Regions from separate parts of the Homo sapiens genome. Here all the other regions are linked to region 4. Evidence: fine-mapped expression QTL. A gene starts in region 4. Each other region holds a variant in brackets. All regions are shown on one strand. Distances are from middle to middle.

Region 1 (4,508 bases), 93 kb after region 4:
CTTTCTAACAAAGCAATTACATAATTCCTGGAAAGCGTGTACTTTTAAAATTTTAGATCATTGAATCTCATCCTTTCATTTTAGAGGTAAAAAGGGAGCTCAGGAACATTGATTAAATTGCCCAATTCATTTTTATATATGCATTTTTATATACATATGTATATATCCAAAAATAATATCATATAATTATATACATGTACCTACACACACATTCATATATAAATACACACATGTAAAGAGGAAGGAATCAGTTACACAAATACATAATTTTTTTTCAGGTTGTCTAAAAGTATACTCCAAGTTCCCCCAAGCTAGAGACCATTATTATCAGTGATTGCTCTACAATTTGCAAGTAGCAGAAACCAACTTAGGATGGCCTGAGTTATATGTAACTCTTCAAGTTGGCACTGGAGCTGAAAGGTGGGAAGGAACTGGAACCAGGGACTGGAATGTGGGCAGGACTCTATGCCTTTCCTCTGATACTTTCTGCATGTTGCTGTTCACTCAACTATCCATCCAGATATTCACTGAAGACCTATTCTATGCCAGGCACTGTGCCAGGCAGAGGGAAAGCCCTCATATCGGGCAGACCTGGTCTTCTCCAGTAGATCTTGTGAAACTTATTGGCTCTCATTCTCTCTTGCCACTGCCATGTAAGTAGTAGCTTTTGCTTCCACCATGATTATGAGGCCTCCCCAGCCATGTGGAACTATGAGTTTGTTAAACCTCTTGTATTAGTCTATTTTCATGCTGATGATAAAAGACATATACCTGAGACTGGACAATTTACAGAAAAAAAAGAAGTTTAGTGGGACTTACAGTTCTACTTGCCTGGGGAGGCCTCACAATCATGGTGGAAGCCAAGGAGGAGCAAGTCAAATCCTACATGGATGACAGCAGACAAAAAGAGAGAGCTTGTGCAGGAAATTCCTCCTTATAATACCATCAGATATTATGATACTTATTTGCTATCACAAGAACAGCACTCAGATATTATGAGACTTATTTGCTATCAGAAAAATAGCACATGCCCCCATGATTCAATTACCTCCCACTGAGTTCCTCCTACAACACGTGGGAATTCAAGATGAGATTTGGGTGGGGACATACCCAAACCATATCACCTCTTTTTCTTCCCAGTCTCAGGTATGTCTTTAGCAGCAGCAGGAATACAGACTAATACAGTAAATTGGAACCAATAGAGTGGGATGCTGCTGAAAAGATACCCGAAAACAGGGAAGCAACTTTGGAACTGGGTAACAGACAGAGGTTGGAACAGTTTGGAGGGCTCAAAAGAAGCCAGAACAATGTGGGAAAGTTTGGAATGCCCTAGAGACTTGTTGAATGGCTTTGCCCAAAATGCAGATAGCAATATGGACAATAAAGTCCAGGCTAAGGTGGTCTCAAATGGAGATGAGGAACTTGTTGGGAACTGTAGCAAAGGTGACTCTTGTTATGTTTTAGCAAAGTGGCTGGCAGCATTTTGCCCCACCCTAGAGATTTGTGGAACTTTGAACTTGAGAGAGATGATTTAGGGAATCTGGTGGAAGAAATTTCTAAGCAGCAAAGCATTCAAGAGGTGACTTGGGTGCTGTTAAAGGCATTCAGTTTTATAAAGAAATCAGAGCATAAAAGTTCAGAAATTTGCAGCCTGACAAGGTGATAGGGAAGAAAATTCCATTTTCTGAGGAGAAATTTAAGCTGGCTGCAGAAGTTTGCATAAGTAACGAGGAGCTGAATGTGAATCATTGCCAAGACAATGGGGAAAATGTCTCCAGCGAATGTCAGTAGTCTTCAAGGTAGCCC[C/T]TCCCATCACAGGCCTGGAAGCCTAGGAGGGAAAAATGGTTTCATTGGCTGGGCCCAGTGTCCCTCTGCTGTGTGCAGTCTAAGGACTTAGCGCCCTGTGTCCCAGCCACTCCAGCCATGACTACAAGGGGCCAAGCTAGAGCTCAGGTTGTGGCTTCAGAGGGTGCAAGCTCCAAGCCTTGGCAGCTTTCACGTGGTGTTGAGCCTGTGAGGGCACAGAAGTCAAGAATTGGGATTTGGGAACCTCCACCTAGATTTCAGAGGATGTATGGAAATGCCTGGATGTCCAGGAAGAAGTTTTGCTTCAGGGACAAACCTCACGGAGAACCTCTGCTAGGGTAGTGTGGAAGGCAAATGTGAGGTAGAAGCCCCCACACAGAGTCCCCACTAGGGTGCTGCCTAGTGGAGCTGTGAGAAAAGGGTCTCTATCTTCCAGACCCCAGAATGGAAGATCCACTGACAGCTTGCACTGTGCACCTGAAAAAGTCACAGGCACTCGTTGCCAGCCCATGAAAGCAGCCAGAAAGGAGGCTGTACCCTGCAAAGCCACACTGGCAGAGCTGCCCAAGACCATGGGAACCCATTTCTTGCATCAGCATAACCTGGATGTGAGATAAGGAGTCAAAGCAGATTATTTTGGAGCTTTAAGATTTAACTGCCCTGCTGGATTTTGGACTTGCATGGGGCCTGTAGCTCCTTCGTTTTACCCAATTTCTCCCATTTGGAATGGCTGTATTTACCCAATGCCTGTATCTCCATTGTATCTAGCAAGCAAGTAACTTGCTCTCAATTTTACAGGCTCATAGGCAGAAGGGACTTGCCTTGTCTCAGGTGAGACTTTGGACTGTAGACTTTTAAAAGAGTTAGTGCTGAAATGAGTTAAGACTTTGGGGGACTGTTGGGAAGGCATGATTGGTTTTGACATGTAAGGACATGAGATTTAGGAGGGGCAAGGGGCAGAGTGATATGGTTTGGCTGTGTCCCCACCCAAATATCATCTTGAATTCCCACGTGTTGTGGGAGGGACCCCATGGGAGGTAATTGAATCATGGGGGCAGGTGTTTTCCATGCTGTTCTCATGATAGTGAATACCTCTTACAAGATCTGATGGTTTTATAAGGGGGAGTTTCCCTGTGCAAGCTCTGTTTGCCTGCTGCCATCCATGTAAGACATGACTTGCTCCTCCTTAGCTTCCACCATGATTTTGAGGCCTCCCCAGCCATGTGGAACTGTGAGTCCATGAAACCTCTTTTTCTTTATAAATTATCCAATCTTGGGTATCTTTATTAGCAGCATGAAAATGGGCTAATACACTAGTTCTCACTTCTCACAGACGTTTCACTACTCCCATGTTGTAAGTTTGGCCACATGCAGAGAATGATGTGTAGTTTCTTAGTCCCCAACTCCCACCACCAATATGGCCAGGAAGGAGGCCACCAGGTGACACAGGTTACCCAGGCCCACATCTATGGATAAAAAGGTTGCTGGGCAGACAGCCTGAAGGCTCCACTACAACATGTTATCTGATCCTTTTGCACTTCTCCCTCCACAGTATTTAGTCCAATTTTTTTTTTAATTCACTCAAGTGCTAGCTTAGTTGAACACCTACATTTAAAAACCCACAACTTTTAGTTAAACAATGTAGAAAATTACTGGACTTTCACTGATAAAGAAATTTGCAACATGGTAAATTATTTGTTCAAAATCATAATTCTCCCATCTGTTTTATTTCTCCAAATGTCCAAGCAACCCAAACCAGGACAGTACCAAGGGCTGTACCACCCTAGTGGTACAACCACTAGATATCACCATGACTAAACTAAGAGTTCAGTCGGAACTGTGCTGCTGAGAGTATCAATGAGTTGACAGCTGCCCAGGCTTGCACTTTTCCAAATCACGGAAGAAGGAGCCATAAAGAGCCAGGCTCATCAAAATTGAGTATAAGCAATTCTCAAAGACCATGTTGATAAACAACAAGACCCTTGACCTTTATATTCCTTCTTTATGTGCTAGGTGGCCCTTATATTTACACATTTTTAAATTATTATATAAAAAGAGCCATTAACCATGGTCCCAGCTCATGTAAAAGATGGAGAGATGCTGGGAAGGTATCAAATCAGTTTGGCTCCAGTTAGCCCCAAGGATTTTTCATTAGGCCACGCTACTAAGTCTCTCTGACTTTAATCCCATTTTCTTGGGCTCACATATATCCTGGGGCATTGTGAGGTAAGAATAAGTCAGTCAGGAATCAAACAAAATTCAAAGAAATGGATAGGCATCATGATATGGTTTGGCTCTGTGTCCCCACCCAAATCTCATCTCAAATTATAATCCCCACATATCAAGGGAGGGACCTGTTGGGAGGTGATTGAATCATGGGGTGGTTTCTCCCAGGCTGTTCTTGTGATAGTGAGGGAGTTCTCACAATATCTGGTTGTTTGATAAGTGTCTGGCATTTCCCCTGCTTTCTTGCTGTCTCTCCTGCTGCCTTGTGAAGGAGGTAGCTTGCTTACCCTTTGCCTTCCACCATTATTGTAAATTTTGAAGGCCCCCTGGCCATGTAGAACTTTCAGTGAATTAAACCTCTTTTCACTATAAATTACCCAGTCTTTGGTATCTTTATAGCGATGTTATAACAGACTAATATTAATACATATCACTTCTTTAGGGAAGGCAGTAAACAAGATGCTAACTGATGGAGT
Region 2 (4,508 bases), 74 kb after region 4:
CTCTCTCCTCCAGAATCAAAATTGAATCCAAACCTCTACATCTAATTACAACTTCCAGAAAACGTCAGTGACATAGGAATATATTATATAAACACCACAAGGATGCAGTCAATTAACCTGCGTTGTGAGAAACTCGGGGATAAATATTCTTGTTTCTATTACATTTAATTTCAAGAAAAGAGACACAGAGAGACAGACAGACATACCAGAAGGGAAACCTCTGGATCAAGAGACTAGATCAAAACATTGACCAGTTACAATGTTTGGTCCTTATTTCAGTCCTCAATCTAACAAAAACAAATTATATTGAGACAATTAAAATTTAGACAGTACTGGATATTTGGTGCTATTAAGGAGTCATTAACATTTTAGGTGTGATAAAATTGTGGTTCTGTTTAAATAACGTCTTTTTCTTTTACAGATGCACACTAACACATTTAGACTTAGTTGATACAATATCTGAGGATTTTTTCTGGTAATACAGAAGGGTAGGTTTGTGAGATAGAGGTGAAACAGTATTAGTCAAAAAATAATTATTGAAGATAAGGGTTCATGGAGTTCATTATGCTCTTATCTCTGTATTTGTATGTGTTTAAATCACTCATAATAGTGTACCTGTGCTTGTGTAAAACACAAGTGCCCTATTGTGTATTTCTGATTCTGTAAAGAAAATCCTGATTCTGCAGATATGTGATGGAGACTTGCCATCAGAATCATTTATTAAGTTCAGTAAAAAATTTGATTGCCTAGCCAAGGTTGAAAACCATTGTTTGATTTGTCATTTAAATGGGTTGATATGATTGACCTCTATAGTCACAAACATCCCATAAAATCTTAGTGATATCAAGTTTAATCTATTGATGTCTCCCATTTTTCTTCAGTCTTGCTGCAAAGCTTATGAATATATGGGATACATTATGGAAAAAGAGCAAGCATATACAGATGCTGCCTTGAACTATGAGATGGCATGGAAATATAGCAATCGGACAAATCCGGCAGTAGGTGAGTTTGGCAATCACCTAGATTTTTCACAGAAAAATTATGTTGTATTTATTAATTTTCATTTAAATGCATTTGATTTTTTTCAAAACAAAATAAACATTGAGTCAATTTTCATTGTCAACCTTTCTGAAAGGAGAATAAATTTTATATTCATAATATATTATTAGCTACTAATAGTTCAGTTTCCTGAGTTCCAAACTTGTCCTCAGTCACTTAGTGTACATCTAGTCTAATTCTGCCCCCTTCTCTTCCTTCTAAAAGAAGGTGCTATTTTGAAATTGGGAATGCCATGGAAAAAGATGTTTCCATTGCCAAGTAAGTTAGGAAAATATTGCATTAAATTGAATTACACAGGTTTCTTTACTTCTCAAAGCCTTTAAACACTAACGTATATTGCGATGGATATCACAGAGGGGCCATGTTTCCCACAATTATTTGACCATGGGACATTTTTTTTTTCTCCTGAGCATCTAGAAACATCATCCAGTCCCAGGCTGGATGTTGCAGGCTGTTAGTTTGGGTAATGCTAGTCTACAGTGTCCCTAACAGAGGTGGCATCAGAATATATGTCATGACCAACCTCTCTCCTCATACGAGGGAGCTCATCCTCATGTTTGTGTACTCTTTCTTTGTATTGGGTTGAAATATGCCTCCTTGAAACTGCCCAAGTCTGTTTTCCGGAGCAACTTACAGAATGCCTCCCTCTTACAGATCATGACCCTTTAAATTGCAATCTTCAGTCCTGTGTCCTAGGACTTGTCTTCAAGCCATCTGCAGTTACTTGTCCATTCTTCCTAAGATTGGATTCCGAGTCTCTCATCTTCCTTGTTGCTGTCTCCTGGAAGCTCTAAAATAGTGTTTCCCAAACTGTGCTTTGGAACAGTTGGGGAGATTTTAATAATTATTTTTTTTTTAATTAAAAAGAATG[A/G]AGTGTGAAGGTGGTAGATGCCATGGCCATGTAAGTTTGGAAAGTGCTGTTTTATTTTTCCATGCCCCTCTGACCTGTTGTACCATAAATGAACAACCTCTCAAATATGATTTGGCTTCTTATAAGTATAATTAAGCTATTTTTTTCTTTTGATTAGGCAATTTGTAGTTGTTAATTCAGCCTAAGATGGCATCAGTCTTTTCAGCAGCCATGTCACCGTGTGAATTCGATTTTGATTTGCAGTCAAATGAGTCAACCTCATACTAACTGCTGTTAGCTCAGGTCTTCCCTCATCTGTTAGTTTCCTGGAGTCTGTTCTCATACTATACTAGACTTGTGCAAAGCACAAAAACTAATGATTTTTATAGTATTTTTTATTCTAAGGTGTGATATATCTTTCAGAATAAAGTCATCTGGTAAAATGAAAAGTCCTTAAATATCCTTAAAATATTAATTTTGACACTTTATTCCATAGAAGGAATGCACATAGAAGTTAAATTATTTATATATTCCATTCCTTGGAAGACCTCAGCAAATAAAGAGATTCCAAATGACTAGTTCTTTCATTGTGTCATCATTGTATTTTATAGATTATTTTATCAGTTCCTCTAGCTTTGCTTTGGTAATCATTTCTTTCTAAGGCTCTCCATTAATTCCTCAATTTCATCCTTAAGATTGTCATTGCATCTAACACCCTCAATGTGCCTGGCCAAATAAACAATGTATTTCACTTTTTCAGTTGTCAGAAAACCCTTAAAATCATGCTCATGGCCAGGCGCAGTGGCTCACACCTGTAATCCCAACACTTTGGGAGGCCGAGGTGGGCAAATCACCTGAGGTCAGGAGTTCGAAACTAGCCTGGCCAACATGGTGAAACTCCGTCTCTACTAAAAATACAAAAATTAGCCGGGCATGGTGGCGGGCGCCTGTAATCCCAGCAACTCAGGAGGCTGAGGCAGGAGAATTGCTTGAACCCGAGAGGTGGAGGTTGCAGTGAGCCGAGATCACACCACTGCACTGCAGCCTGGTTGACGGAGTGAGACTCTGTCTCAAAAAAAAAAAAAAAAAAATCGTGCTCATGCTCTTTCCATAGAATTCAGGGTTGAATATTGTCACTATAAGAGGCACCAGGATGAATGATGAATGGATAATTTGCTTGACTGCAGTAATCATTTATAAATAAATATATATACACACACACACATATATCTACACACCCACATCTACACACCGACATCATTTTGTATATCTTAAATATATACGAGGAAAAAAAGAAACACACTAGGAACAACTGAGATCCAATGAGAGAAGAAACTACTCATGTTTCACCCTTCATACCTATTCTCAGGTTATAGGACAGTCATTAGACTGTGTAGAATGTTTGCATTCTCTCGCTGTCTCTCCTGATTGCATATAGTTGAGTTCTAATAAGTTTGGCAGGTGTAGTGCAGCTGCAGTGCACATTTTCTTTCCCCTTCTTAGGTCTTTATTTCCTCTGAAATTTTTGTACCAGGTCATGTATCAAGTTTCTTCCAGTGTTAAAATTCTGTGATTATAATATAGTGAATGCTTACATTAAAAAATGCTAATATTTTGTGGTATTCTAAGGTTTTAAAAACCATTTCACAAGTATTTTATATGATTTTTAAAATTATACTAAGAGTTAGAGGGAGGAGTTGTTATTCCTGTTTTAGCGATGAGGAAACCTGAAAATGACAGCTCAAGCCACTTGCGTAAGATCCCAAAGCTAGTCAAGAAACCACAAACCAAAACTGAAATCTTGACTAGTTCCCATGTAAGTATGTTTGGCATGACATCTTAAAAATTGCTTTACTTTTTGAATGTCACAAACCCTTTTAGTTCATTTTAGAATTTGTTGGTAATGACATTAAGTTTACCTCTCTGAAACTTCTTATTTTTGTCTAAAATCTGAGATGTGAGATTCTGCCATAGGCCCTGCCCATGTGTGCCTGTGTGCATGTGTGTGTGTGTAGAGATATATATATACACACCTATATAGACATACATATATATACACACACATATATAAACATACACACATATATATATGCAGTCATGTGTCGCTTAACAATGGAAATCTTCTGAGATATGCATCATTAGACAATTTCATCATTGTGTGAACATCTTAGAGTATACTTACACAAACCTAGGTGGTAGATCCTACTACACACCTGGGCTATCTGGTATAGCCTATTGCTCCTAGGCTACATACCTGTACAGCATGTTACTGTCATGAATGCTATAAGCAATGTGTGTATGTAAACATAGAAAAGGTACAGCAAAAATACAGTATAAAAATCTTTGGGACCACCATCATGTATGTGGTCTGTTGTTAATGAAACATCATCATGCAGTGCCTGACTATATATAAAATAGTGTGAATTTTAGATCATTTCTATTTCTTTCTTTTTACTACCATCTGATAATGTTAGCCAGTAATTCTTTTCAAACATTTAAAATTTTAAACATTTGTTTTGGTACTTTTATTAGAGCTGAAGAGCACTATTTACACTTCTTATTTCATATTTTTAAGAGGTAGAGTGAGATATTTTTTATT
Region 3 (4,508 bases), 110 kb before region 4:
TCCATCAATACCTTAAAGCTACATCTATGAAGTTTGTACATAAGCATGTATGTTTCAATCTGAGAAAAATGGAGTTCTCACAGAAGAAATCCTATGAAAAAATGGTCCTTTAATGTTGGCCTTATTGTTAGCTTCCTGGGTAGCAAGGATGTCTTGCACAACAGTATGTCTTATGAAAAATTAAAGCAAAACAAATACCGTTGTTCAGTAAAAACCTTACCAATTCCATTTATAAATTCAACTTGCAAGTATTTTCCATTGCACATATAAATCTTGTTACCAAATAATCTTCTACACATTCTTTAAATTTTTAAAATGAATAAAGGGAATACACTGTAAAATCAGTAAATGTTTTCATCTAAGGCTTGAACAATTGATAATTATGCCCATTTGTTTTTAACTTTTGTGTCAAAGTATTAATTTTCTCTATGTCAAAGGACTTTTAGATTTAGAATCACATACCAACATTGAGAGTGCTTTGGTTTCATTAAACTCATCTTACTTAGTTTCAGCCCTTTATACCTCCTTTTATCTTATTTTTTAAATTGACACGTAATAATTGTACATATTTATGAAGCATATAGTGGTTTTAATACATATGATGTATAGTGATCAGATCAGAATAATTAGCATATCCGTCATCTCAAACATTTATCATTTTTTGTGTTGGGAACATTCAATATCTTCCTTCCAGCTATTTGAAACTATATAATAAATTATTTTTAACTGTAGTCATCCTACAGTGGTGTGGAGAGCTAGAATGTGTTCCTCCTATCTAGTTGTAATTTTGTGTCCTTTAACAGATTTCTCTCTGTCCCCACCTTTCCCCGATTTTTGTCTAGAATCCTCTGCTCTTTTTACTTCTAGGCAGACTTCCTTTTTGGAACCTTTTGTGTTTGGTTTCTGAATCTTGCCTCTTTTACTTTTTAGTACTCAGGGCAGAAATATTTCCCCTCCCTTCTTTTAGATCTCTAGCTTTGCCTTTTACTTTACCACTCCTTGTCTGTCTTTTCTGTTTTGGTCATTTATTACCTCTGGTCATGGTTTGGGCTGAACAGTGGCCAAGGAGCCAGCATCACAGGTGTTCTCTTCTAAGTATGGTCCTGTCTCCTTAGGATGAGCCTGGTTATTTTCCTTATCCACGGAGGTACAAACAGTACCATCTTGATTATCCTCACACTCCAGCCCATGATTTAGGCCATCTATGGATTGTCATTTCTTTCTCATTATCTCTTTGTATCACTACTATTTGTTTCAAAATTAGCTTTTAATATTATCTGAAATCAAGAGATTCTTATTTTAAAATATATATATTCTGTGTTATATTTTTACTGGTTCTCCTACCTGTGCCCCTAATATTTCTTTTTCTTTTTTTCAGATGGAGTTTTGCTCTCATCACCCAGGCTGGAGTGCAGTGGCGCGATCTTGGCTCACTGCAACCTCCGCCTCCTGGGTTCAAGCGATTCTCCTGTTCTCCTGCCTCAGCCTCCCAAGCAACTGGGATTACAGGGACCCACCACCAGGCCCAGCTAATTTTTTTGTGTGTTTTTAGTAGAGATGGGGTTTCACCATGTTGGCCAGGCTGGTCTCAAACTTCTGACCTCAGGTGATGTGCCCACTTTGGCCTCCCAAAGTGCTGGGATTACAGACGTGAGCCACTGCGACTGGCCATCTGAGCCCCTAATATTTCTTTCAGATTTTACTCAGCATATCTGGGGGGAAAGGAAGTATATGCAGTACATTTGAAAGGTGGACCATATTTATTCCTGAGCTAGCTCACTTTGGGCCTTTCTGTGTCGTTACATGCTCATATTCCCCCACAGCAAAGGCATTTGCATTGCACAAGTCTGTTCAGATTTACGATGATCTCACAATGTCATTCAGGGACAGAATCCCTCAATGAATCAGAGAAAAAGAGGGCTAAGTATTGTTGGCATAGGGGATTGTTCTTCTAGTAAGCACAGGTGAAATTCTCCCTTCCTTCAAATGCGCTTTGTGGTAAAGCTCTATCTGTTTTCTGGACTCATACTCCTTCAAAGATGATAGAGGGAATGCAGGCAGAGGTGAGACTTGGAGCAGTGCTTCTCAAACTCTGTTGAGGATGTGAGGTCTCTATTCTTCTATAAAATGAAGTAAAAATTAGTTTCTAGAAAACTGAAATGAAAAACAGGCCCACAACAACATCCCCCTACTTTTTTATTATTAGAATAGACAGACACAACATTAATTGGCCAAATTGCCTTACAAATTTCTAAACATGGACTCTCCATATCTATACTTAACCAGTACTGGTTGGGGGACCATACTTTCACAGCCAGTTTAGGACACTTCTACCCATACCAGATAGAAAGTGCTTAATTTTCAAAAACCAACTCCATTAGCAGGTAGGGGTGTGGGAGGGTGGGTTTGCTTTACTTGAATTTAGAAAATCCTGCAAGTATAGGGGAAATCTGTTAATGA[G/A]CTAAGACTATACAAAGATTCTTAGTAGAAAATAAACATAACATTTATGCTTGCTGTATCATAACATGATCTGTGCAGATATGCATCCTAAGGCTTAGAAAAGAAAGCTTTCGAAGAATGGGTGAATTTAAAATCAAGAAGCTTAAAATTTCCTTCCCCAAATATGCTCTTCACAGAGATAAAGGCTTTCTCCCTGGCTCTGTCTAAATATAAGTAAGCACCTTGGAAAACATTGAGTCAGAGCCCTTTTTATACCCTTACATGTTGCTTCTTTAATGTTTTGTCTGCCCACTGCCAATTGATCTCAAATAAGTCTAATTTTTGGAAGGAATTTCATTCACATTCATGGATCCTGGATTCTTCAGGAGCTTGGAGCTTCTCCTCTGTGATAAGAAAGCACTGCATAAGATAGGAAGTCAATTGGGATTAGAATTCAATATGTCAGCTAACTCAGAAATCCCAGTACAGAATTTAGCACTCCTGGTCAACGGGTACTCTCCAGGGATCTTGGCCTCCAGAAATCAATTATTGGATTACATCCATCTAACCCAAGAGTGGGTTTGATGGTGGCTGTTTTTATTTTCTATTACGAAGAGAGTGATAATGTTTATTTTATGAGGATAGATGGTAAAAACAATCTTTATTTCAAAAATAGTATCAGTTCTGTTGAATGATTTTGCGTTCCACAGGATTAATTTTCAAGATATTTGAATTGGGAAAGCTGAAATGACTATAAAAAGCATGTAGTGCCTTAAGTTTTTTGGAATGAAATGAAATGTGCACCCATTTAAGACTTTCATTTAACTCAGACACTTAAAATATCGAGAAAATAAATGACTTCTCTTGGCTAATTGTCTTATGTACAATAAAATTGAGGGTAAGTATTAGGTAAAAGGTAAGTGGTATCATTGGATTTCCTCTCTAATTAAGAAGAGATCCAGTGACAGTTTGTTTTCATGGGGCACTTTAGAAATTGTGATTGTGCTGGTTTCTCATTTAACTTTACAATAATTTATTATGACAAGTAACAGAAAGTAGATAACAGAGTTTAAGTGGTTTATACTTTCATACTTCTATGTTGTGTTCCTGTCTTACAGACTTTTATAGTATTGAATAAAGGGAAGGCCATCTTCCGGTTCAGTGCCACCTCTGCCCTGTACATTTTAACTCCCTTCAATCCTCTTAGGAAAATAGCTATTAAGATTTTGGTACATTCATATCCTTTTTCAAGTGATTAATATTAACTATTTGTACATGATCTGTAAGCACTTTATAGCTAAATATCAAATTAAGTTGGGAAATGTCCATATTATATAGTTTTCATCACTCTCATTTTGCATCTTTGTCATATTAGCCTCATTCTTAAAGTTCATTAATCACATAGACATTACTGAAACATGTACTCTTTAACATTTTATATATTATATATAAACATGTATTTATGTACTTTTGTTATCTTTCTAAAAACACTTATATGTATTGAATCCTACAAATCTAAAGTAAGATAACCATGTTTACCTCTACCATCTTTATACAAAGTTTGTGATGGTGTAGAATTTTCAGTGAGCAATGATATGATAACAGAAAAATCTACTTCCAGACTCAAGTTTATCCATAGTTATGATATAAAACACTTCAGTGTATCTTAGAATAAACCTTTAAGTATATTTTCTGTCAGAGAATGTCAGGAGTCTTTGGCCAGTACTTAGTTAATTCTTGAAATTTCCTGATGATTTTTGTGAAGGAAGTACTGGAATATTGGCTGAATTTCAAATTCAAGTCATGAGTTATGATGCTGCCATGCAAAACTGTTTGCTTAGTAAAGACTCCGGAAGTTAATGAGAGAAGTTGGCATATATTTCCAAATGGTCTTAAGGGATTTGGTTTCATGATTCCCATTGGTGTTAAAAAGGACTCCACGACTAAATTCATTTGTTAATCAATTTAGGAAAACAATTCACTTCTGATTGTATCTTGTTTGATAGCTTTGACAATAATAGATATTAAAATACCATTATAATTATCATAAGCTCATACTTTTTTTTAAA
Region 4 (4,508 bases):
ATGATCTGAGATGGAATAGTTTCAACCCGAAACCATCTCCCCTACCCCTGTCCATGGAAAATTTATCTTCTGTGAATTGTCTTCCACCAAACTGGTCCCTGGTGCCAAAATGATTGGGGACCACTGCTATAGAGCACTACGTGTTTAATGGAAACTATTGGTTATACAATGCCTATTATGTGTCAGGAAGTTTTAATATGTCTGTAAGGCATTTAGTTTCTTTAGTAAATAAGGAAAATGAGGCTTAGGGAAATTACTTCCCCAAGTCACAAAAGTAGCTAGCGTAATAGGAGCTCCACCTCAGATGCAGAAGAGGGTATTCTTGCCACTACACTGTGATATTTTTATACCCATCCAGTTATGGTGATCCTTAAAGACTTCATGAAATTTGAAATGAACTCAGAAGAAGGAGATTTTCTCAGGTGAAGAAAGAGCTCAAAACAAAGTAGGGGAAAGCATTACCAGAAGAAGGAATATTTGTCCCACTGAGCGGAATAAAGGCTCCTTGAAGGGGAGGTAGAAGATAAGGCTTGAAAAGACGATGAGGTGAAGGGTCATGGATATCAGACTCAAAAGTTTGTAGCTAGTAAAAGTGAGCCGATAAAAATGTTACTGCTAAGGAACACATCGATTTTTCAGGAAAGACAAGAGTTTTTCCTGGCCTGAGATCCAAAATAAATTTCTTACATGAGATCTAGTAAGGGCACAGGGCACACCAAGTCACCGTGAGTGTCAAAGCAAATCTCAGAGTACTTTTAATCCAACAAACATTTATGAAACATCAGGCTTGGTGTTTTGTGCTAAATAATTCAACCTTAGAACAGAATTCAGTGAAGAGAATACGAGGCTAAATTAATATGACTTTCAAGATCTCCAAAAGGTAGGTTGATCATCTGTTCTGTTAACCATGATCCTGAGATATTTCCTTACAGATGAACTTTTCTCTTATAACCAAAGGTTTACAGTTCAAGATTATACACTTCATTGAGCACCCTGGTCCTGTGGTATTCTTTGCTGTATACCAAGTGCGGATTAATCCGCAGCTTTGAAAATCAAAGAGATATCACCAGTTGTTCATCACCACAGACATTTAGCTGGACTATAAATATTGGAAAGAAAAAAAAGTTGCTCGTGAAAATACGTGGTGAATTCCTTTAAAGAGAAACCGGTGAGAAATATTGCTTCACCTTAAAGCCTAGGATGGTAGCTACCGTTTTTCTCAAGACTGTCCTTACATAACCTATTGGCATGGGGAAAAAGTCAATGTTTATAAACTCCTTAAGAAACTTAAAATCTGGAAAAGGCAACTACGTATCATGTCAACTAAAGTAAGATAATTAACACTAGGATCAAAATTTGGAATCCACGTGAAAGATTCTGCAAAGATCACTTAAATCTCAGACCTTATGCACTATTTTAAATATTTATTTAAGCAGAAATAGAAAATCTTAGTCTATTATATTTCCATTTAATTTCCTGGACTTAAGAAATCTATGTGTGACTGATTGAGTTGCCTAATGGGGTGCAAACATAAAAATTTGCATTGGGATTCATTTTATTCTCAGTTTAAAATCAGTAGTATCATTGAAAACAAGACACTAATTTTCTGGAAGTTTAATTTATTTGTCCCTCTTATTATCGGGGCTGGTAAAAAAGGGCTAATTGAACACACATTCTAACAAAGATTGCAGCAACGCCTGCAAAGACGGGCCCAAGCGCACCGTATTTCTGTTAAGAACGTGTGATTTTTTTTTTCTGCGCCACCTTGTGGCCGTAAAACAACTTGCCCACGTGAAAGTTGACCGCTTTTTCCCGCGCCGGCAGAGCCTTGCTGAGAGCCGCACTGCGGGAATCCGCCTCCAGACAAACGTGCAGAAAATGGTGTCTTCCTTTACAACCAGTGACAGGAAACAGACTTCCCCTTCTTCATACTCCGTTTCCTTTATTCCTGAATTCCATTTCCTCGGCCCGCCCACCCACTGTCCTCAGACAGCCGTTTCCCAGTGTGACCTCCTTTTCCAGCTGCACTCTCCGGCGGAGGCCCTTTTCCCAGCCCGGACCCTCCCGGGCGGCCCTCGCAGCCCTCACCTCCGGGTCCCCGCCGCCCCTGCTCCATTACAGCACGATCCCCGCCACACAGGCCCGCCTCTCCCTCCGACAGCCAATCGCGGCGCGACCCCGCCCCTCCCGCTGGGGCCCGGGGCGCTAGAGCGCTCCGGGAGGCTAGGGGAGCTGAATTCTGCGTCTTCCTTTAGGCTGCGGCGAGACAATCCCCAGAGCCCCGCGGCCCGGCCTCGGGGCAGCCATGGACTCGCAGGAATTGAAGGTGAGCGGGTGAGCGGGTGAGCGGGTGAGCGGGCGGGCGGGCGGAGTTCCTTTGCGGCCTTTTGGCCCGGGGGCGCGGAGGGAGCTCGGGTGGCTTCGCTAGGCCGCTGTTTCCCTGCGGTGCCCCGGCTGCTCGGGTTGCGGGGTGGGCCTGCAGCCTCTGCTCACGGCCGGTCTCCGCGGGCCCTGCTGGGGAAGCCCAGGTCTGGGCAGCCCGCCCGCTCGGTGTTTCTGAATTGCTGGTCCCCATGCTGTTGGTTGTGTTTACTTTTGTATCATGTTTACTAGGAAAGCTTGGGTTACCTATGACACTGCGCCTCCGGGTGCGATTTTTAAGGACTTAAGGCAAACTAGTGTCAGCTCCCACACTGGACAGTAAAAAGAGCGCAGAAAGATTATATGAAACCCATTAAAGACGTAAGACTTAAAAGTGGAGGGGTCGTTATTTTAGGGTGATGGTCTTCTCTGTTTATCACTGACTCATTCATTCAGCAAATATTAATGACGGTCAACTTAAGAAAGGCTGATATAAAACAGTTAAAGACATGAGGCTTGAAAATAAAATAACTTTTCGGATGTTGGTCTTCTCTATTCATTTGTTCACTGAATCACTCGTTCAGCAAATATTTATGAAGGGTTACTGTATGTCCATTAGAAGCTGGAGATAGCAGTGAGCAAAACTGAACAGTTTCTGCCTTCTCAGATTTTACAGGCTAATTAATGCTGGGGAAAAACCCTAATTCAGTTGACTCAACAAATATTTACTGAATGCCTCCTATGTGTCTAGCACTGTTCTAAGCACTGAAATAATAAAACCAAGAAAAACTCTTCCAATCTTGGAGCTTACATTTGAGTAGGAGGAGTCAGACAACAAGTAGGTAAATGAAATGTGTATCCTGTGAGATGGTGATAAGTGGATGGAGGACAATTTGGCGATGTAGGAGGTTAGGGAATGCTGAAATGTCTTGTTTTTCTGCCTGAAGTTTTACATTATCCTCTGTTCTAGCTATCCCCCTATATCCTTACATTTTTTTATTCCCTTAAATGTATTATTTGCACTGCCACCCAAATGAACATTTTAATAAAAACACTTTAATGTAAAATGTAAAAATGGGCCTCCTCATTACTTAGACTTGAGGTTCAAGTCCAAGTACTTAATATGAGGCTTTTCACCCCACCTTCGTCTCCAACCTCATCATCCAATACTCTCTGTCTCACTTAAGCCTCCAGAGCAGAGAATAGCAAACTTTCTCAACAAAGGGCCAGATAGTACACATTTTAGACTTTATGGACCGTATGGTCTATCACATCTAATTGGCTTGTTCAAAACAGCCATAGACAATACTTAAATGAGCATGGCTGTGTTTCAATAAAACTTTATTTATGAACACTGAAATTTGACTTTCATGTAATTTTCATGTTATGAAATATTTCTTTTTTTTCCTTGACAGCTGGAAAATATAAAAACCATTCTTAGTTCACTGGCTGTACAGCCAGCCAGCCAGATATGGCCCACAGAGTGTGGTTTGCCAAACCCTGCTCTAGAGTATGGAGTGGCTTTTAGTCATCTTCATCACCACTGCCATCCCAATGTACCATTGATGACTTGTTATCTGTGTTGTTGCAGTTCCTCTTCCTAACTCCTGTACCTTCCTCAAGAATCATGAAAAGGAAATAGGAAGAGCGTGTACGTGTGTGGAGGGAGAATGAGGGGTTTGCAATTCAAGAGTCAGCTCTGAAATCCTCCCCAATAATCTTTCCCTTGATTTTAGTCATCCATCCTCCCCTCACACCACATTCAGTTTTCAATGCTGTCAAAATGTTGCTATCCCACATTCCCAAAGGAGTTTATAAGCTCTTTTCTTACATTTACTACATTATATTTCAGTTAGTCTTCAGATTACAGTCTCATCTGAAAAATGTAGGTTTTCCGGGGGGACAGGAACCATGTCTTACTCATTTTTCTATTCATAGTAGCTAGCCCAGTGCCTGGGTACTAGTAGGCAGTCAGTAAATGTTTTGGATTGAATAACCTAACCTGAACCAAGGCAGTAGCATTAGGTATGTTTAGTGGGAGGTAGACTGGAGAAATAGAAGAACCTACTAAGTGGTTAGACTTAGAGAGACTGGGCAAATAGGAAGGGAGGATTCATGAGTAGCAGGGTAGCAGGTGGAAAATGGAA
Region 5 (4,508 bases), 110 kb after region 4:
GTGTAACCAGCTTGGATAGCCAGATACATCTTCTTTTTTTTATTATTATTCTTAAAAATCAGATAACAGTATTTACTAGTTAAGGCTATTCTAAGGATTAAGGGAAGGGAAATGATGATCTGCTATTTATAGAGTATCGACCATGAATAGGGCATTGTATTTGGTGTTTGAAAAGCTCTGTTTGCAGGTCACACTTTAGGTACTGTTGGTTATGTTAATAGCTCAACTTCAGAGAACTTCTAACAAAAAGGTGGTTACTGTAATTTTATTACAATTCCACTGCTAAGTGTGGAGACATAGCCCCATTCACGAGGTTTACTCTTTGCAACTGGAGAGTAGCATTCTAATGACAAAAGAGGCTGAGAAGTTATTCATACCTCTTCAGATGAAGAAATGTTTGTGCATTCCAATGCTAAATTTTGCTGTTGCTATAACAAGAACTAAATAAGATTCAGATTTTGTCAGCCTCTGAATATTTTGGAGTTAGCCAAAGGGAAAAAAAAACACCTTTTTTTTAACTCATTGGTAAAATTCAGGAGCTGCAAAATAAAACAGGTACTACTAAAATTCTATCTGTTGCTTTTGGTTGATCACCTTATAGAAAGAAATGAACTATCAACCCCAGATGGAACACATATATCTATTAGTAGGCAGATAAATCCAAATAAAAACCGTGACAATGTATTTAAAATAATTTTGAACAGAAAGGATTCCCTACTCTGGGTACCACAAAGTTTTTAGAACTTCCCCTGGATAATTGAGGTTGGTACACATACCCTAAAGTAAACAGCAAGTAACTTCTCTACATGGTTGTCACAAAACCCATGGACTTTTATATATGGATATATACATATATAGATAGATATATGCATTCATATTATATATATATATAAAAGCATACATTTTACATATATATAGATAGATATATGCACACACACACACACACACACACACACACACACACACACACACAGGAAAAGATATGACCATGGTAGGCATGAGGATGGCCAAGGGAGGGTGTAACATCTAAAAAAAATCATGGTAAAAAGAAGTAAAAGAAAACAGAGAGAAAATGTACCAAGAAGAGGCAAATAGAATTTGTAAACATGTGGAAGTTCAGGGCTATTTGCATCATGCCAAGTCCTCGCATTCCAGTGACCCTTGCAGACATTACTGTTATAGCACATTAATTGTTATGGATACTTGGATATTCTGTGCCAAAACTATATAGTTAGTTTCTAATCACTGCAAACAATAAATAATTCTACTGAAAACATTTAGGTTTTTTTAAAATGGGAAATTAACTAACAAAAAGTAGTCATCAGGTTAAGTGATGAATCACATAAGATAAACCGTAATTCTTAAAAAGTGTAGATAAATGAAGTTATTTCTTATTTAGCCTATTTTTTCTTTATCTTTCATCTATCTTATCAAAATGGATAAAATCACTTTCAGCCAAATTATAACATTTATTGTAGGACATATTACCTCAAATTTGTAGCCAAGGGTAAATATTGTATTTAAGGTAAAGACGTGTATCTTAGGTTTTCTGTTTTGTTTTGCTTGTTTTCATTTTTTGGTTTACTTATTTACTCATTTATTAATGTATCATTTCTAACTTCCTGAAACACTGGATTGAAAATGTGTTCTGGACCCTATGTCTAAAAATGTTAAAGTTGTGTGATTATTTGGAGGAGGATTATATTAGCTTTTCCTAGTATTTTCTTCCTTATGAAATCAGGTTGACCAGGACAAAAGAACAATCCTATTGATGCATTCTGCCTTGCAGAGCAAGGTGTTCACAGGAACCTGTGTGTGCAGGTCACAAAGCCCTTGATTGGTGAGTGAATGAGCGGGATTGACAGTGGAACTCAGGCTGAAGGACTCTTTTTGCTATTTATACATAGAGTAACAATCTACCACAAGACTGTTCTGCTCAAAGGCAAACAGATTCTCTTCCATTAAGATAAGACTAATGAACAAATTCTAACACTGGCCAAAATATTTGCCATCATGTTTTCTCCAAGTACAAATCTAAGAAATTAATTACTTTATCTTTAGAAAAAATTTTCCTCTGCTCCCTACAGAATTTCAGACCACATTTTCCTGGTGTGGCTTCCTTTCCCAATAAAATGTTGGGTACATACTTTTGTAAATTCAAATATCCAAGGTCAGCATAAGCTCTTTAGCCAGTAACAATAGAGCTTCATTCCACAACATTTTTAGTTGTCTTTGGGGATACCTCAAGTGCTGAGAGATGAGTTAGTCACATTCTGTAGTTAATAATGTTCAGTCATTAGCTGTCTGGTCAGGCCTCTCTCTTCTTTTCCTTCATAATGTTTTTTCAGTTCATTCTTGACCTCATTTCCATTTCGCATTACCCCACAAGCAGCCATTCTAATGAGCTTGATATATGTTATTGAATATATAAATATCTTTGAAAAATACATAAACTCATTACATGCATGCATGTTTTAATTTAGATAAATGATATT[G/A]TGCAATAGATTTCATTCTCTGCCATACTTTTTATTCACTTAACATGCTTTTTTTCTTTTTCTTTTCTGAGATGGAGTCTCACTCTGTCGCCCAGGTGGAGAGCAATGGCGTGATCTCGGCTCACTGCAACCTCTGCCTCCCAGGTTCAAGCCATTCTCCTACCTCAGCCTCCCGAGTAGCTGGGATTACAGGCGCCGCCACCAGACCAGGCTAATTTTTTGCATTTTTAGTAGAGACTGGGTTTCACTATATTGGCCAGGCTGGTCTCGAACTCCTGACCTCATGATCTGCCCGCCTTGGCCTCCCAAAGTGCTGGGATTATAGGCGTGAGCCACCTCACCTGGCTCAACATGCTATTTTTAAGATGATGCTATACGTGCTAATTCACTGCTACTGACCATTGCATGTTATTCCATAGTGTGCATTGAATACATTTTATTTATTTGTTCCCTAATAATAGAACTTGTTTGACACCAGCTCCTAGCTCCCACAAAATACGTGGGAGACCCTATCATTGGATCTAGGGTACACCCACCAATTTCTCCAAACATTGCTAACTGACTGCATCAGTCCCAGATTCCCACTAACCTTGTACAAAGGCTCCAAGTCTCACTGTCCCCCCAACACCTAGTATTATTGAAAATTATAATTTTTACAAACCTCATGGGTATAAAGGGATATCTCATTTAAATTTGTGTTTTTCTGGTTATTAGTGAGGGTGACCATTTTACCAAACATTGTTAGCCATTTGAAGTTCTCTTTTATTAATTGTGTTTTCAAATCTTTTCCAAATATTTAAATTTGTTTTACCTTATAGCCTATTCACATTTTTTTTAATGTAAAGTGATTGGAAAAAATTAGGATGGTTACCTATCTAGCATCTTTTGGCTTAGAAGATGGCCTAGAAGTTGGAAATTAGATTACTTGGGAAATTTTTCAGATCGTGAGGACTATTAAATATGGGTTTGAATCATAGTTTTACAACTTAATTGTTGGGTGAATTAGAGCAAGATACTTTTTCTTTGTGTGTCTCTGGCTGGCTGTGTGTGTGTGTGTGTGTGTGTGTGTGTGTAAAATGGGGGAAATAATTGGGACTTATTGTAAGGGCTTGCTATTTTCTATAAGATGACTTATATAAAGTTTGCAGTATAGCACATGGACAACTGCAGGTGTTCCATAAAAATTAGTTTCTTCCTATTCTGTATGATATGCATATATGAGGAACTCAGTAAATAAAAGCTCACAGTATTGATGTCACCATCATCATCATCATTGTTTGGAAGTATTTAGGAAAAGCCTTACCTGAAGATGAGTATAGACCATCTGTCTTCTTAAGATCTTGTCCAGTCCTATGTATTCATAGAATTCACTCACACAAATTTGCCTTAGTGGTGATGAGTTATCAGATTTCTTATATTCCCTTGAAGCCTTGGTAAATTGCTGATGTTTGTCATTTTCTTAAAATCTTGTAATTTCTTCAGATGTTTTCTGTACTGATTTGAAAATCACCAAATTAAACCTAAAAAAAAAATCCATACAATTTAACTAAGGCCATATTCCTTCCATCTTGTCTTTCTCCTTCCTTCTTTCTCTCTCTTCCTTTCTTCATTTCTTTTCTTTTCTTTCTCTTTCTTTCTCCTTTCTTTCTTTCTCCTTTCTTTTCTTTCTTTCTTTCCTTCCTTCCTTCCTTCCTTCTTTCTCTTTCTTTCTTTCTCCTTCCTTCCTTCCTTTCTTCCTTCCTTCCTTGCTTCCTTCCTTCCTTCTCTCTTTCTCTCAGCTAGTTTTATAGCTTATTTATAACCAAACACCTTGTATTACTTACCTTTGCTGTTTAATAAATTACCCCCAAACTTATTATCTTAAAACCAAACACTTTTATTATCTCACACTTTCTGTGAGTCAGGAGACTGGGCATGGCTTAGTTGAGTCCTTTACTTATTGTCTCACCAGTCTTTAAACCAGATGTCAACTGGGCTGAGTTCTCATCTGGAGGCTTAACTAAGGAGGAATCT

Alleles and levels. Positions count from the first base shown, and alleles are read on the strand shown. Sizes are in standard deviations (SD) of each study's normalised expression. Not every link is listed here.
In carriers of allele C in region 1, the expression in stomach of the gene that starts at base 2,235 in region 4 tends to be lower than with T alone (moderate effect, 0.43 SD a copy in GTEx).
As copies of A replace G in region 2, the expression in subcutaneous fat of the gene that starts at base 2,235 in region 4 goes up (small effect, 0.25 SD a copy in GTEx).

The links. PIP is the estimated chance that this variant, and not a neighbour inherited with it, causes the effect. A credible set is the group of variants that fine-mapping cannot tell apart.
Region 1: its variant is the best candidate, but not a certain one, in a credible set for the expression of TTC21B in stomach (GTEx, PIP 0.86).
Region 2: its variant is the best candidate, but not a certain one, in a credible set for the expression of TTC21B in subcutaneous fat (GTEx, PIP 0.61).
Region 3: its variant is the best candidate, but not a certain one, in a credible set for the expression of TTC21B in whole blood (TOPMed, PIP 0.83).
Region 5: its variant is the best candidate, but not a certain one, in a credible set for the expression of TTC21B in blood mononuclear cells (TOPMed, PIP 0.64).

Annotation. Positions count from the first base shown.
Region 1 is chr2:165,858,371-165,862,878 of GRCh38, reverse strand. It overlaps LOC100506124 (a long non-coding RNA gene), which reads left to right. Exons shown (of 4, transcript NR_045375.2): 3 at 4,475-4,508. Among named protein-coding and RNA genes, the nearest start is that of GALNT3, 66 kb to the right of the region's middle. The variant C/T (reference allele first, on the strand shown) is at 1,807.
Region 2 is chr2:165,877,173-165,881,680 of GRCh38, reverse strand. TTC21B (tetratricopeptide repeat domain 21B) reads left to right here. Exons shown (of 29, transcript NM_024753.5): 27 at 882-1,002. Among named protein-coding and RNA genes, the nearest start is that of TTC21B-AS1, 54 kb to the left of the region's middle. The variant A/G (reference allele first, on the strand shown) is at 1,931.
Region 3 is chr2:166,057,738-166,062,245 of GRCh38, reverse strand. It overlaps SCN1A (sodium voltage-gated channel alpha subunit 1), which reads left to right. Exons shown (of 29, transcript NM_001165963.4): 5 at 3,558-3,676. Among named protein-coding and RNA genes, the nearest start is that of SCN1A-AS1, 22 kb to the left of the region's middle. The variant G/A (reference allele first, on the strand shown) is at 2,461.
Region 4 is chr2:165,951,503-165,956,010 of GRCh38, reverse strand. It overlaps TTC21B (tetratricopeptide repeat domain 21B), which reads left to right and starts at 2,235. Exons shown (of 29, transcript NM_024753.5): 1 at 2,235-2,326. The coding sequence starts at 2,306. RefSeq lists an enhancer at 1,471-2,220 and a silencer at 1,985-2,384.
Region 5 is chr2:165,840,197-165,844,704 of GRCh38, reverse strand. No RefSeq gene overlaps it. Among named protein-coding and RNA genes, the nearest start is that of GALNT3, 48 kb to the right of the region's middle. RefSeq lists an enhancer at 1-612. The variant G/A (reference allele first, on the strand shown) is at 2,496.